Regions from separate parts of the Homo sapiens genome. Here regions 1 and 2 are each reported to be linked to region 3. The links are microRNA targets in miRTarBase. Many come from high-throughput screens and were not tested one by one. Region 3 holds a microRNA gene; each other region holds the end of a gene's coding sequence.

Region 1 (4,056 bases), not on the chromosome of region 3:
TGCAAATTAAGGGTGTAGCCTGCAGAAATAACAAAAGACTGCAGATACAAGAGTTCAGCTGAAATACAACAATACTTTTAAAGAAACTTGTAGTACACGTTATAAAAGTAGAGCTTGTACTTTGTATTAAAACTGTAAAGTGTGAAGCAATTAGAAATACTGTAATGAGAAGCTAGGGAGAAAATACCTTATTTTTTTCATGTTCATTTTTTAGAAACATTTCAGAAATACTTAACGACATTCACTCTCCAATATGAGATTAGGTTTTATCGACACAGATTTCTTGATCTGAATAATAATTCTGACAATGAGACCCAAACAAATAAAAGGTGATTTTTTTCCTCTCTCTCTCTTTTAAAAAGATCTTTTGGTTTGCATCTATAAATTTGTAAATTAATTTTAAATTATTTATAAAATCATTGGCAATGTAGCATCTCTCTTAAAAATATATATTTAAATATATTACAGAAGGTTTTAACCCTGTCCTTCTAAGACATCAATCTTTTAATATCTCCTAATAGCTAATTTTCTTTTTAACACGATGGAAAAGATTTTTTAAAAAAGCAAAGGACTGATCGAAAGAATTCACAGTAGCTGAAATTAAACATTTCATATGGAGTAACTTAAATTTATCTAAAACACTTAAATATATCTTTATACACAAATTTTGTAGTAAAATATAGCTATAAGTGACTTAAAGACTCTAGTCTTCTTTGAAGACATCTTTAAACTTTTTTATACATAGAATATGCTGAAACAATACATTCCACCGAAGGTTAGGCAAAGCGCAATATTTTCAAACACAGGTAGCGTAATCTAGGTCCTCCACTCTGATACCCTTCTGTTAAAAAAAAATTAAAGGAAAAAAATTCTCTAAACTCATGTCTTCTTCGTTTGTATATGGAAATCTAGAAATTTTTCAGTAGATCAATGTAGATAGCCTGGAAATCTCAGCCCTAAAGTAATGTTTTAGTTAAAATGTTCCTTATTGAAAAAAAAAAATGTTCCTTATTGAATGTGTATATCTATCAGGTAAGTCATATTATTACTCAACGATTTGGTAAAAATGATTGTCAATTTCCACATACTTGTTTCCCATGTAGACACTGCCCTAAGGTTTTAAGCTTCATCAGGATTACCTACTGAGGTTCCATTCACAGACAACCAGGCATAACTTCCTTATTTTAAGGGCAGTGGGATTTGCTTATGAATATTTTGGGGGTAGAATCTATCTTGTTCTACTTATGGAATTCTAAGTTGTTTGGGGGAAATTCTGGAAAAAGAATAATTTGCAATGAAGCTATCTTCAGCAGTAAAATAATTTAGCATGATAATTCCCCCCTGGCATTCTTTTTTTTTTTTTTTTTTTTTAACAAGGAGGTATCACTGAGCTTATTTTAGCTGCAAAGTGGCATCATATTATTCCATTTAATGAAATTCACCTCAAGCCCTTTTTGACATATTAAATATATGGGATATATTTAAGGCAAGAGAAGTAAGGCAATCCAAATGAGTGCCCTTTTCCAATCTCAGCACTGTCTTGGTGGAATTGGTGACACTATTCAGATAACCAACTGGAGACCGACAGGATTTGCCATGCATTTGCATCTTGCTACAGTTTGGTTTTTATGAAAGGGCCTATTTTTTTTTAAGTTGACATATTTTGAGTGGAAACACTCACCCTACCAAATATACTTAAGTTGCAACTCTAAAAGCATAAGGACATTTTCAAATTTTCTCTTCTTCAACTGAGAAAATGAATGTGCCAGGTGACATATTATATACTTGTACTTGCATACACATAGAAATATATCACTGTGCAAATTCGTCCTTGACTTTATAACTGAATTTCACCTCAAATTATACATTAATTTGCAGAACAAAATATTAGGAATGGGCACAAATCTGTGGTTCCTGATTTTGGTCATTTTCAATTTCTGTAGGCCTGTAAGAAATACAAAATTTGCATTAAGACATTTTGCAGTGGTGTATGCAAGTATGGGAAGAAACAGGAAGCTGATAAGGTCATCAGCATTGGTTTTGGCCCAGGGCACAAGAAAGGAATGTTGCCTTAACACTTGTCAGGGTGCAGTCCCTGAGGGCAGCACCCATCAAGGGACACATCAGACCCCACAGGTTGTGGCAGCAAGGTCAGAAGTGTGCATCCAGACAAAGGTGCAAATTAGACAGGAGGATCGCTTAGAAAGCCTCAAAGCATTTCTTGTTTTACATCTTGGTTCAGATATAAAGAATCTTTGGCCGCATCTCCTCACTGGTTCTACTATCTGGCTATTAACCCTTTACCAACTCCTTGAGTCTGGGTAAAACTCAGGGCCCCAAATTATGGATGTTCTCACCTGGACAAAGCAGCATTTTAAAAACTGGCATGTGTTTCACATTGAAAACCCCCAAGCCTGTGAGGGGCTGGTGGAGAAGACCACCATTTTAGCTTTCTCACATGAATTCTAGTGTGGTACAGAAGCCCAGGGTCATGTTTATACTAGCCCTGGGTGTGGGGTGAATACAACGGGTGATCTTTATACTGAAATTCACTCTGTCTTTACAAGGGAACCAAAATCCAGCCCTCTGAGTCTGGACACGAGGCTCAGCCATTGGTCCTGCCCTTGGCAGTAGCTGAGCTGAGCTGGGCTGGGCTGGGTTGGGCCGGGTTGGGCTGGGTTGGGCTAGGCCGTGCTGCTGCTGGAGCAAGGCGTGCTCTGCGTGCTGCCGATGCTGTGGGCAGCACTGCTGTTTTCCGAGGCTGGCGGGGAGGTGGGGACTTGCTGCCTTCCTGCTGTCTCCCCTGCAGTTAATAAAGAAAAGGCAGAGTCAGAGAAAGACGCATATTATGTATGTGCATTCCTGAAAAGATCATTTATTCCGCATTTGCCATTTTAACTGATATTTTTCTCAACCAGGGCAGAAGCAACTAGACTAGGTCCTAGATGGCTGGAATACCTTCTAAAATAAGGTTTTGCTATTTGTTGTTTTATTTTTAAAGCATCATGAATGGGAAAAAGAAGACAGCTGACTGACAGGCAGCTCTAGTGGCTAAGACCCCTGAGAGTTGATGACAAAGTCCCTGGATTTCAGGGTCCACAACCTTTGATGAAATCACCACCACTTGGTCTGTGTGAGCTGGCAACTGACCAGCACCTGTATTCAGGAAACACTGTCCATCTTCTCTCATAAAGACACTGTAGGATTTGGAGGGTGTGACCTTTCAATTGTAGTTAAGAGAACCCTGGAAGTTTGGGAGCCTTGTTCTGAATGCACTTGTTAAAAACAGGAGTGAAATATAGACTTTGTCCTAGCTACAGTAGAGAGAGCCTTGTGTGCCAAACAGATAAATTACCTGAGAAACCGGGGTGGGGGATAGCTGCTATTGGAAAAACCTTTTGGGGAAGGGGTTTAGCTGTTTGCACATGGGGACTGCAGTTGCCAGCGAATGGCCTCTCTTCCCCACTGAGGTTCCCTGTGGGGTGCAGTGTGAGTATCTCCTAACACTTTAAGCATCCCACTTTTCATTACACACCCCACTGCATTTTAGCTAAAGCCATTCATCGTGCCAAATGTGCAGTGCTTTGGAGAGGAAGGAAACCTCAAGTCACACACATGGTTTGCATTTAACAGTGCAAAAGGCCCTAGAGTTAGTCTTCTCTTCGGCAAAACCGGCCTCAGTGCAACCCTCAAAAAATGGCTCTAGGTAGGGAAAAGCGATCAGGGCTCTCCAATAAAAAACACTGCATTTACTTTGAAAAGTCAGAGCATAAACTTCATAAACTTCTTGTAAGCAGCATCCCCTCCTTCAATGTGGGAAACCCCAGAGGGCCAGGCCTGTTTATGAATGAGCCTCCTCTTTCCTGTCATGCTGAAATACACATCTATCAGCCGGAGATAAGCAACCCTTCCAGCTGCTTCATTAAAACAAAACACTCGAGGAAAGGCCCTGCCCTCCAGTGCAGGAACTTGGCCCCATTACTTCCATTCTCTTTCTGGGGCCCCTCAAAAGCCTCTGTGAAAAAAGCAGTTCTGCAAAATGTAGAACTGGCTCAT
Region 2 (4,056 bases), not on the chromosome of region 3:
GGGATGGGGTCTTGCTATGTTGCCCAGACTGGCCTTGAACTCCTGGGCTCAAGGGATCCTCTCGCTCACTTTTTTTAAAGTGAAAGTTTGCTTTCACTTTAAAAATGTTAGTGGAGAGTCACCAGGAATTTTGCATAAATGAGACATAGAGGAGCAAAGTGTTCATGAAAGACTCGGTCACATGCTGACTGACATGAGTCCTGCATTTCCAACGTGGTAGGAAGAAGGGAAGGAAGACTGTTGCCACTAGAGGTTTGCAAAGCCCCTTCCTAACATTCTTAAGGAAGAAGACTGAAAGGTGGCATTCAAACACAACAAAAGGGATATTTTTTTTTTTTTGAGACAGAGTCTCGCTCTGTCGCCCAGGCTGGAGTGCAGTGGCACGATCTCGGCTCAGCGCAAGCTCCGCCTCCCAGGTTCACGCCATTCTCCTGCCTCAGCCTCCCGAGCAGCTGGGACCACAGGCGCCCACCACCACGCCCGACTAATTTTTTGTGTTTTTAGTAGAGACAGGGTTTCACTGTGGTCTCGATCTCCTGACCTCGTGATCCGCCCGCCTCGGCCTCCCAAAGTGCTGGGATTACAGGCATGAGCCACCAAGCCCGGCCTTTTTTTTTTTTTTTTTTTTTTTTTAATGAGACAGAGTCTCCCTCTGTTGCCTAGGCTGGAGTGCAGTAGCGCAATCTAGGCTCCCCCCGCAGGTTAAAGTAATTCTCCTGCCTCAGCCTCCTGAGTAGCTGGGATTACAGGTGTGTGCCAACACGCCCAGCTAATTTTTGTATTTTTAGTAGAGACAGGGTTTCACCATGTTGGTCAGGCTGGTCTCGATCTCCTGACCTTGTGATCTCCCCGCCTCAGCCTCCCAAAGTGCTGGGATTAGAGGCGTGGGCTACCACACCCGGCCAAGAGGGATTTTCTTTAAGCAAGCTTTCACAGTAGTGGAGTTAAATGATGTGGGCTAAAAGGTGGAGGCAAAAAAGCCAAAAAGAAATGGGAAAGGACATGGCAGGATGGGAAATTCCAACATGAGCTAATATGAGTGTGAGAACGATCATTTGCAGGAGAGTGAAAATCTCCCGCAAAGGTAGATAAAGAGCCACTTTGTGTGTCCAGTGAGAAAGTGGACTGTGAGTAACCTATAAGCTGCTCATTGGAAACAAGAGGGCCCTCAACAACGTTACAAAGGAGCAGATCATCCTTCTGGTCTCTTGCTCCTGGTGCTTCTGAATCCACAGCAAACCTTGGCAGGAACATGCTTCCCTTTGCCACCCAGAGGTGCTCTGAGAAAACACTCTAACTCACTAGGAGGTGGAGATATAGACCTTTTTCTGAACTGCTTCTCACATGCAGGGGAAAATAAATCAAAGAGAAGGCCTAAAAGAACTGGAACTTGGACTAAATTAAAGAAAATTAAGAAAAAATGAGAATAGGAAGGAAGTTTTTGCAAACAAGGAAAACCACTATTTTTTTTTCTCCCCATCCAAGATAACTTTCAATAGTGTATTACTCTCAATATGTTGGTGGCAAGCTTGGTTGGCTCCAGACAAAAACTTGTAATACCCAAGGAGAAAAAATTTACCTACCGCTGCTGATGGCATTAGTGAGGTCAGCCCAAGCCAGCAACCTCCTTGCAGACTTCAGCCCCACTGTATATTGGTTCAGCCTGGATCATGGCACCTAATGGTACCTTCTGGGCACCTGCTCAGAACCAGGAATTCTGCACCTCTCTCTAAGCTCAGCCAGTTTATTGAACAAATAATCTATATTTATAGAGCAGACTCCACTGTTGATTAAACAGCTTTAAAATATTATAGCAAACGAGAGCCCATTGTTTTAATGTGAATCCAGGCATTTCACTTTGTTTTTTTGAAAAGAGAGTTTAATCTTCTTCCCTAAATAGGATACTTACAGATAAGCATGGCATGAAACCTTAAGCACCGTATTTGAATTTTAGAATGTGGCAATCTATATAACAGTAAATATATGACTGTGATTCTTTTCTATCTTCTCTAAACGCCATTCAATTCTCTCCTCTCTTTAATTGAATTTGGGAAACAAGGTTTGACAAAGGGATACAATATTTAAAGTCTACTAGAAGCACAAGGAAAAAATTCTCCACCAAAGCACATCGACACGTTTGTCCTCCCCACCCCTTTTTAACTGAAGAGCCCCAATTTTGATACTAGAGGAGTTATGGTCTATTGTGAACACACATCTTAGAAGTAGCCTCACATTTTCTTAGAGCTCACTTTGTCATTTTCCCCCTTTTGATACTCTGCCAAATTTAACTTCAAGAATTTATGATTTAAGACACTGTGAGAGTACTTAAATCCAAAGTTCCTGGAAAAATAGGATGTAAAAGAAAAGTTACAATGCAAACCACCCCAATGGACTCTTAGTGAGAAGCAGGTAAATCAATCATTCACTCCCTCATGTCTGCAGGCCTAGGAGGGGACTCTGAAAATAGCATCGTATTTGGAAGAAGAGGAGTGGAGAGACGTCAGGAGAAGAGAAGAGAAAAATGTATGTTTTCTAGGTCTCCAGTGGTCTTTCTTCTCTTTAGATGGTTTAACTGCAGGTGAGTTGATCTTTCTCTTCCTTTGGCGTGACGGTGTTGGGATGTGCTATGGGTAGAAGTCTCTGGGGGCTCTCAAGTCTCTTGTCTCAGTTCTTCTTGGATGGTCATCTCCAGAGCCCAGGTCCATGGCTTCTGGGTAGCTGGGAAATTCCTGAGGTAAAGGGAACTCCTCTGCTGAAGAGTGAGTCCGGTGCCCGAACACCTTTTCCTGCAGCTCAGTGATGTCATTGCGGATGTCAGCCAGCATAAGTAGCAGGAAGTCGAAAGAACCAGGGGGTCCCTGTGTACATGGGAGGAATCAAAGCTAGAATACGACAGACAGCAATGGCCTCCGGGGCTCCATGACTTGACCTGCTGCTTGCTGGCAACTACTTTCTCAATAACTCTGTGCCCCAAATGGAGCCAATGTGAGGACTGCTACAGGAGCCTGGGGGTCCTCCATATTGTTTTCTAATTCTGTCACTTCTCAGCTGAGCTTTGGTGATGTATTCACCTTTCCTCCCTCCTAACGCTTTATCAAATCCAGTAGAGGAAAGGATATAAGAATAACTCTCCTAGGTTACTTTCCAAAGCAGTCTGGAAGATGCTTATGAAGGCAGCAGAGCAGTGGTTAAGAGACTGGGGTTCTGTTGGATTTGAATCTCATCTCTGCCGCTTACTAGCTGTGTCATCTTAATTTCTTGTGGTTCAGTTTCCCCATCTGTAAAACGGGGATAATAATAGTCCCAACTTCATAGGGTTTTGTAGGATTCATAAGTGAGGATTTAAGCAAGTAAATACGTGTAAAGGGCTTTGAGCATAATACGTATTCAAAAATGTTATCTGGGCCAGGTGTGGTGGCTCACGCCTATAATCCTAGCACTTTGGGAGGCCGAGGTGGATGGATAGCTTGAGCCCAGGAGTTCAAGACCAACCTGGAAAACATGGTGAAACCCTGTCTCTACAAAAATTTAACAAAAATTTAGCCAGGTGTGGTGGTGGGCACCTGTGGACCCAGCTACTTGGGAGGCTAAGGTGGGAGGATCACTTGAGCCCAAGAGGTCGAGGCTGCAGTGAGCCAAGATTGTGCCACTGCACTCCAGCCTGGGTGACAGAGTGAGACCCTGTCTCAAAAAAAACAATGCTGTTATTTTTTAAAAGCAAAATTATTAAAATGTTTATAAGATGGCTGACTATAAGCACAAACTAAATGAAGTTGAGAGGATGTTGTAAAGACGTCAACTCCTCGTTGACTAGGAAAGGTCCAAACAAAATCTTCCTAATTTTTCTATGTATTGAGTATCCTTTATCATCATATAGTATTTACTAAGCCTTAATTTCATATAGCGCTGTGTGGGGCATGGTAAAAAAGAAATGCACAAACACGCATGTTCTGGGCTTGTCAGAAGCTTGTAGTAAAATCGTTATCATCTCCCGCAACTGCTGCTACAGCAGCGGGCACCGTGGAAGCAGAGCTTACACCGTAAAGCACTAAGAGA
Region 3 (5,498 bases):
TCCAACCCCTGCCCAGACACTGAGCCCCTAAGTGGGGACAGAGCTTGTATATGGGGTTGGAAGAAGTGACTGTAATAGCAGCTGACATTTCCTGACCATGAATCTGGTGCCAGGTTCTGTGCTCACTGGCCTCACTGGAATTCTCTTATTCAGTCTTCACAATATCCTGATAGCCTAGATACTATTATTATCCCCATTTTACAGCTGAAAAAAATGAGGCACCAAGAGGCTGAGTTATTTTCCTTAAGTCTTACTGTCCAGGCAAACCAAGAGTGCACTTGGGGAACTTGACTTGAAAGCTCTTGCCCTTAACCTTGGCACTATACTGTCCCCCCAAGCTAATGTTCCGGAAATATTAGTGGAGAAATGATTAAATCCTACAGTCCCTTACAGATAGCACCACAGAACCTGTGGTGTTTACAAATGCTTTCAAGTCATCATTTCCTTTACGATCATCATACTCTTGATTTTAAAGGACAGTCTAAAGGCACTCCAGGCCGAGTCCCCTAACCTTACCCATCTGGAAATTGAAAACAAGCACCATCAGTCTCCAAGGAGTCCTGAGCTGGGGGTGCTTTGGTTCAGTTCCTACCTGCCACTGAGGAGAAAAATCAGAGTGGGCCTGTGACGTGGACTAGATGTGCAATCTGTGTTGTGGGGTCCAGGCCTCAGCCTGGGGACACCCTGTGCCAACTCTCTTTACCTTGGCTCCTAGATTGCCTGTGCCGCTGTTGACTGTGTCAAAGACAAGAACCAAGACCTGTGCCAGCAGGAGGCGGTCAAGGGCTACCCCACTTTCCACTACTACCACTATGGGAAGTTCGCAGAAAAGTATGACAGCGACCGCACAGTAAGTGGGGGAGAGGCGTCTGCCCAGAGCTCTCTCTCTGCTGATGGGCAGGGAAACTTCCACTGAGGAGGGGCAGCACTGGGCAGCATCCCAGAAACTGCAGAAGTCAGCTGGAACACTGCACCGAGAGGCCCAGGCCCTGGGCCTGGCTGAGGCTTGACATTGTTGGAGGAGAGTCCCAAGGGGTTGCCACAGATGTCCTGTCCCCAGAGGCAGGCTGGACTCCAGATGCCGAGGGTTTTCTCACTTGCTGGTCGGGGCTGGTGCAAGCCACGCAGACCCTCTCCACCTTGCAGAAGTCTGCCCACCTCTCCCTGTCATAGGAGTGACCCCCTGGAGGGGCTGGGGGTGTGGGGAGAGAGAGTGCACAGCCAGCTCAGGGATTAAAGCTCTTTCTCTCTCTCTCTCTCCCACTTCCCTGCAGGAATTGGGATTTACCAATTATATTCGAGCCCTCCGGGAGGGAGACCATGAAAGACTAGGGAAAAAGAAGGAAGAGTTATAATTCCTGCCTCAGAAAAAGCTTTTCCATTACACTGTGAATGATACCTGTTTTGTTGTTTCTGAATTTCCACATGTTCTGAAGACAAATTTTTTATAGCCGCTTATGGCCATTTTGTACAATTTTGAAATAAAATTAAACCATTTATTTGGTGGTATGGTTTATTTTCGTGGAGCCTGTACTAAAAAAGGTGGATACTCACATCCTCCTCATTCCACCACCTCTGCTGGGAGGTACAGAGCAGTGCTCCAGTGCCCCATCTGCATGGAGGTGACTCCTGAGGGTGTCGGCCCCCTGTCAGTCATTTGAGAGCAGAACAGGGAAACTGGACCGCAGAATATCCTGCTGGAAAATGACAAGCTAATGAGAGGAAATACGTCAAGATGATCAATGACTTTGGGAGGCTGAGGTGGGAGGATCACTTGAAGCCAGGTGTTCAAGACCAGCCTGGGAAACATTATGAGACCTCATGTCTACAGAAAATAAAGTTGCTGGGCATAGGGGTACATGCCTATAGTCCCAGCTACTTGTAAGGCTGGGAAGGGAAGATTTCTTGAGCCCAGGAGTTCAAGGCTGCAATGATCTATGATCGCATGACTACTCCAGCCTAGCTAGAAAGCAAGACCTGTCTCAAAAATAGAAAAAGAAAAAGAAAGAAAAAAACAAAAGATGATCAGGGAAATTGGGATGCTGAAGCAAATGGTAACCAAACACTAGCTTCTTCTGGATCATTGCGGTTTCAGCATTGGTGTGTTTCCTCTGTGTGTGTTTTCCTGGAACTTACTTAGGTATTTATCTTTCTCCAGCTATTTGTCTTCTCTTCGTCTCTCCATTCCCTCCCCAATCTCCCTTTAAAGAAAATTAAGTTGCCGCTTCAGGGGCATGAATGGAGTGGGGGAAGGGGGGCTCTGTGCCAGCTGCTTGCTGTGCACCCTGGCTGGAAGGGATGGTGTGTTCTCGAGGTGCAGATATTAGATCTGCTCACCAGCCCCCACCACCAACCATAATAACCCCAAATCTTTACGCCACGTTTTCCATGGATGGGTGCCTTGCTCGGCCTCCTGCCTGTGTACATCTCCTTTTTGACCCACCTTTCTGGTGAGTCCTCCTGCTTTCTGCATTCCTGCGTGACTGACACCCCAGCCCTGTGCCCAGCGGTGCAGGCAGAGCCTGAGCACAGCAGTAACATGTTTTGTCTGCTTGGTGGTATTTCTCCATGGACAGCAGAGTGGCCTTGTGCTAGTATCTTGTCTTTAGTTATAAGTAGCGGTCCTAGAGTTGGATTCCTCCAGTAGTTCAGGGGGGCGTTGCTTAAGCTGCAGTACTTGGAAGCACGCTCTGGTGGCCTTGATGGGGACTTGGCCTGCAGGAACAGCCCTCCTTTCCTGGACCCAGCTCCCTTCCTCCTGGCCTAAGTCCTTCCTGCTGATGAATCTGCTGAGAGGAGGACAGAGCCTCCAAGTTCTTCACAGCTGTTTTGACGATGGTGCCACTGTGGGTGGTTTCATTAAGGGAAATCAAGGTTTTGAGAGCCCTTGTTCTGTGCAGTTCTCCAACTTTCCAATTGACCCTCCTGCCAGTTCAGCTCTTCTCTTTTCCCCTAAGCACCCACTTCCTTGGCAGTGGCCCCTGGACTTCACCCAAGGATTGGATATGAAAGACAGAAGCATACATTTAGACATCATTGAAACACAATTATTGAGTCCCTTCCTGTTGGGGACCATGAACATCTTACAAGGTGTCATTTAATCCTGACACAGGTGTTTACCATTCTAGCATGTGTGTGTCTGGACATGGGTCTCCTTCGTTATTTGGAGTATTTGTAGGGGGAACATATTTGCTTGTGTTTTTCAAAAAAGTTTTTTGTTTGTTTGTTTTTGGGTTTTTTTTACTGCACCTTTTCAATAATAATCTCACAAGAGCCACTTCCTGGCTGAGGACCACTAGTGCCCACCTGCGAGGCACAGGGCTTACTTTCTGGCCATTCCACATCCTCAGAGTTCAGATTTTCCTGGCTTAGCTTCTATTTGAAGACTTAAAAACATGAAATATTGTCAAATATAGATTTAAAGAAATTTTTTAACACATCATGAAATGGAATCCTCTTCACATCCCTATTTATTGACTTTGGGCATGACCTCAGCAAATTTCGTCGCAGCTCTGGGCAGCTCCCCCTGCGGACAGAACTCTCTTCCTCCACTCGCCCCCTGGCATCCGGGTTAGTTCTACTCCCAGTCACCATGCTTGGTTCTTTGTGGTTTCACTGATGTTTAGTGCAGACCTCCTCCCTCTGCCCCACTGGAGGGCTTGCTATCACCCTCCTCTGTTCGCCTGGATCCTGCGTTGCAGGCTGATTTCTCTGCAGGAAGTACGTGAGTTAGGGGAGAACTGATCCCCATCTTTATTCTGGTGCCCCTTGCCCAGCAGTGAGTCCCCATCACCACCTAACTGGAGCCTTCCGAGCAGGACCCTGTCTCTCTTACCTTCCTCATGCTGCTCCCTCCCCTTCTAGAGGTGTTTGGCTTCCAGGAGCTGTTCTGCGCCGGGCACGGGAAGGTGATGCTTCCAGGTTCAGAAGCTGGTTTTCTCCACCGCAACGTAAGAAGATGTGGAATCTCATCTGGAAAGCATCAGGCCCTCTTAGGAAGGCAAAGCCTATGTCCAGGGGTTACATCACCTGCCCACATCACATGGAATAACACAGGCACCAGCCCTGCCCGCAGGAGGCTCCCAGTTTGAGAGTGAGTGCACATTGGTGCTCAGAACCAAACTCTGTGCATTGTGCTCTTACTGTTTCCCATTCTTTTATTGTTGACTAGAAGAAGGAAGCTGATATTCTTAAGCTATCTATCAAAACCAAATTATGCTTATGGTCCCACCAAATATATGTCACCTCCAAAATCTTCTATTTTAGGCCAGTGTTATCCAATAGCCATTAGCCACATATGAGTATTGAGTACTTGAAATTTGGCTACTGCAGCTGAGTGAAGGTGTGTATGTCTATGCCTTTTTATATTGTGGTAAAATATACATAGCACACAATTTACCATTTTAATCATTTTTAAAGGTACAATTCAGTGGCACTAAGTACATTTACATTGTTGTCCAACCATCATTATGATCCATCTCTAGAACTTTTTCATCAACCCAGACTGAAACTCCATAACCATTAAAGAATAACTCTCCATTCCCCACTCCTCCTAGCCCGGGTAACCACTATTCTACTTTCTGTCTCTATGAATTCCACTATTCTAGGAACCTCATATAAGCAAAATCATACATCCTTTTGTATCTGGCATATTTCACTTAGCACACTGTTTTCAAGGTTCATTCTTGAAAGTATGTAGCATGTATTAGAATCTCATACCTTTTTAAAGGCTGAATAATATTCCATTGTATGTGCATACCATATTTTGTTTACCCATTCATCCATCAGTGGACATTTGGGTCAGTTTCACCTTTTGACTATTGTGAAGAATGCTGCTGTGAATATAGATGTACAAGTAAATACCTCTGTGACATCCCATTTTCAATTCTTTTGAAGGTGGAGTTACTGGGTCATCTGGTAACTCTATTTTTAGTTTTTTGAGGAATGGACAGACCATTTTCCACAGTGGCTGCACCATTCTGCGTTTCCACCAGCAAGGCACGAGGGTTCCAATTTCTCCTCATCCTCGCCAACAGTTATTTTCTGGTTTGGTTTCATTTTTAATAGTAGCCATCCTAATGGGTGTGAAGTGGCATCTCATTGTGGTTTTGAAATGTGTTTCCCTAACGATTAGTGATTTTGAGCATCTTTTTTTTTTTTTTTTTTTTTTTTTTTGAGACAGAGCCTCACTCTGTCACCCAAGCTGGAGTGCCATAGTGCCATCTTGGCTGACTGCCACCTCCGCCTCCCGGGTTCAAGCGATTATCATACCTCAGCCTTCTGAGTAGCTGGGATTATAGGCGCCTGCCACCACACCTGGCTGATTTTTGTATTTTTAGTAGAGACGGGGTTTCACCATGTTGGTCAGGCTGGTCTTGAACTCCTGACCTCAAATGATCTGCCCACCTCAGCGTCCCAAAGTGCTGGGATTACAGGTGTGAGCCACCTTACTCGGCCTTGAGCATCTTTTCATATGTTTATTTTCCATTTGTCTATCT

Evidence for each region. Region 3 holds the annotated microRNA hsa-miR-7110-3p (UCUCUCUCCCACUUCCCUGCAG, at 1,253-1,274, shown strand). A microRNA usually pairs through its seed, bases 2 to 8, with sites in the 3' UTR of a target mRNA and lowers its output. Matches are read on the target gene's strand: a 7mer-m8 pairs with bases 2 to 8, a 7mer-A1 pairs with bases 2 to 7 and ends in A, and an 8mer does both.
Region 1: miRTarBase lists TGFBR3 as a target of hsa-miR-7110-3p. Seed matches in the 3' UTR shown: 7mer-A1 at 434-440, 7mer-A1 at 347-353, 8mer at 345-352, 8mer at 343-350 and 7mer-m8 at 342-348.
Region 2: the mRNA of CCBE1 is a reported target of hsa-miR-7110-3p. Seed matches in the 3' UTR shown: 7mer-A1 at 1,725-1,731 and 7mer-m8 at 1,724-1,730.

The regions. Positions count from the first base shown.
Region 1 is chr1:91,681,055-91,685,110 of GRCh38, forward strand. It overlaps TGFBR3 (transforming growth factor beta receptor 3), which reads right to left. Exons shown (of 17, transcript NM_003243.5): 17 at 1-2,803. The coding sequence ends at 2,685. Among named protein-coding and RNA genes, the nearest start is that of CDC7, 180 kb to the left of the region's middle. RefSeq lists enhancers at 2,702-3,205, 3,685-3,764.
Region 2 is chr18:59,433,284-59,437,339 of GRCh38, forward strand. It overlaps CCBE1 (collagen and calcium binding EGF domains 1), which reads right to left. Exons shown (of 11, transcript NM_133459.4): 11 at 1-2,858. The coding sequence ends at 2,625. Among named protein-coding and RNA genes, the nearest start is that of LMAN1, 76 kb to the left of the region's middle.
Region 3 is chr3:123,160,606-123,166,103 of GRCh38, forward strand. It overlaps MIR7110 (microRNA 7110), which reads left to right and starts at 1,189; the gene lies at 1,189-1,274. PDIA5 (protein disulfide isomerase family A member 5) reads left to right here. Exons shown (of 17, transcript NM_006810.4): 16 at 716-850; 17 at 1,275-1,499. The coding sequence ends at 1,355.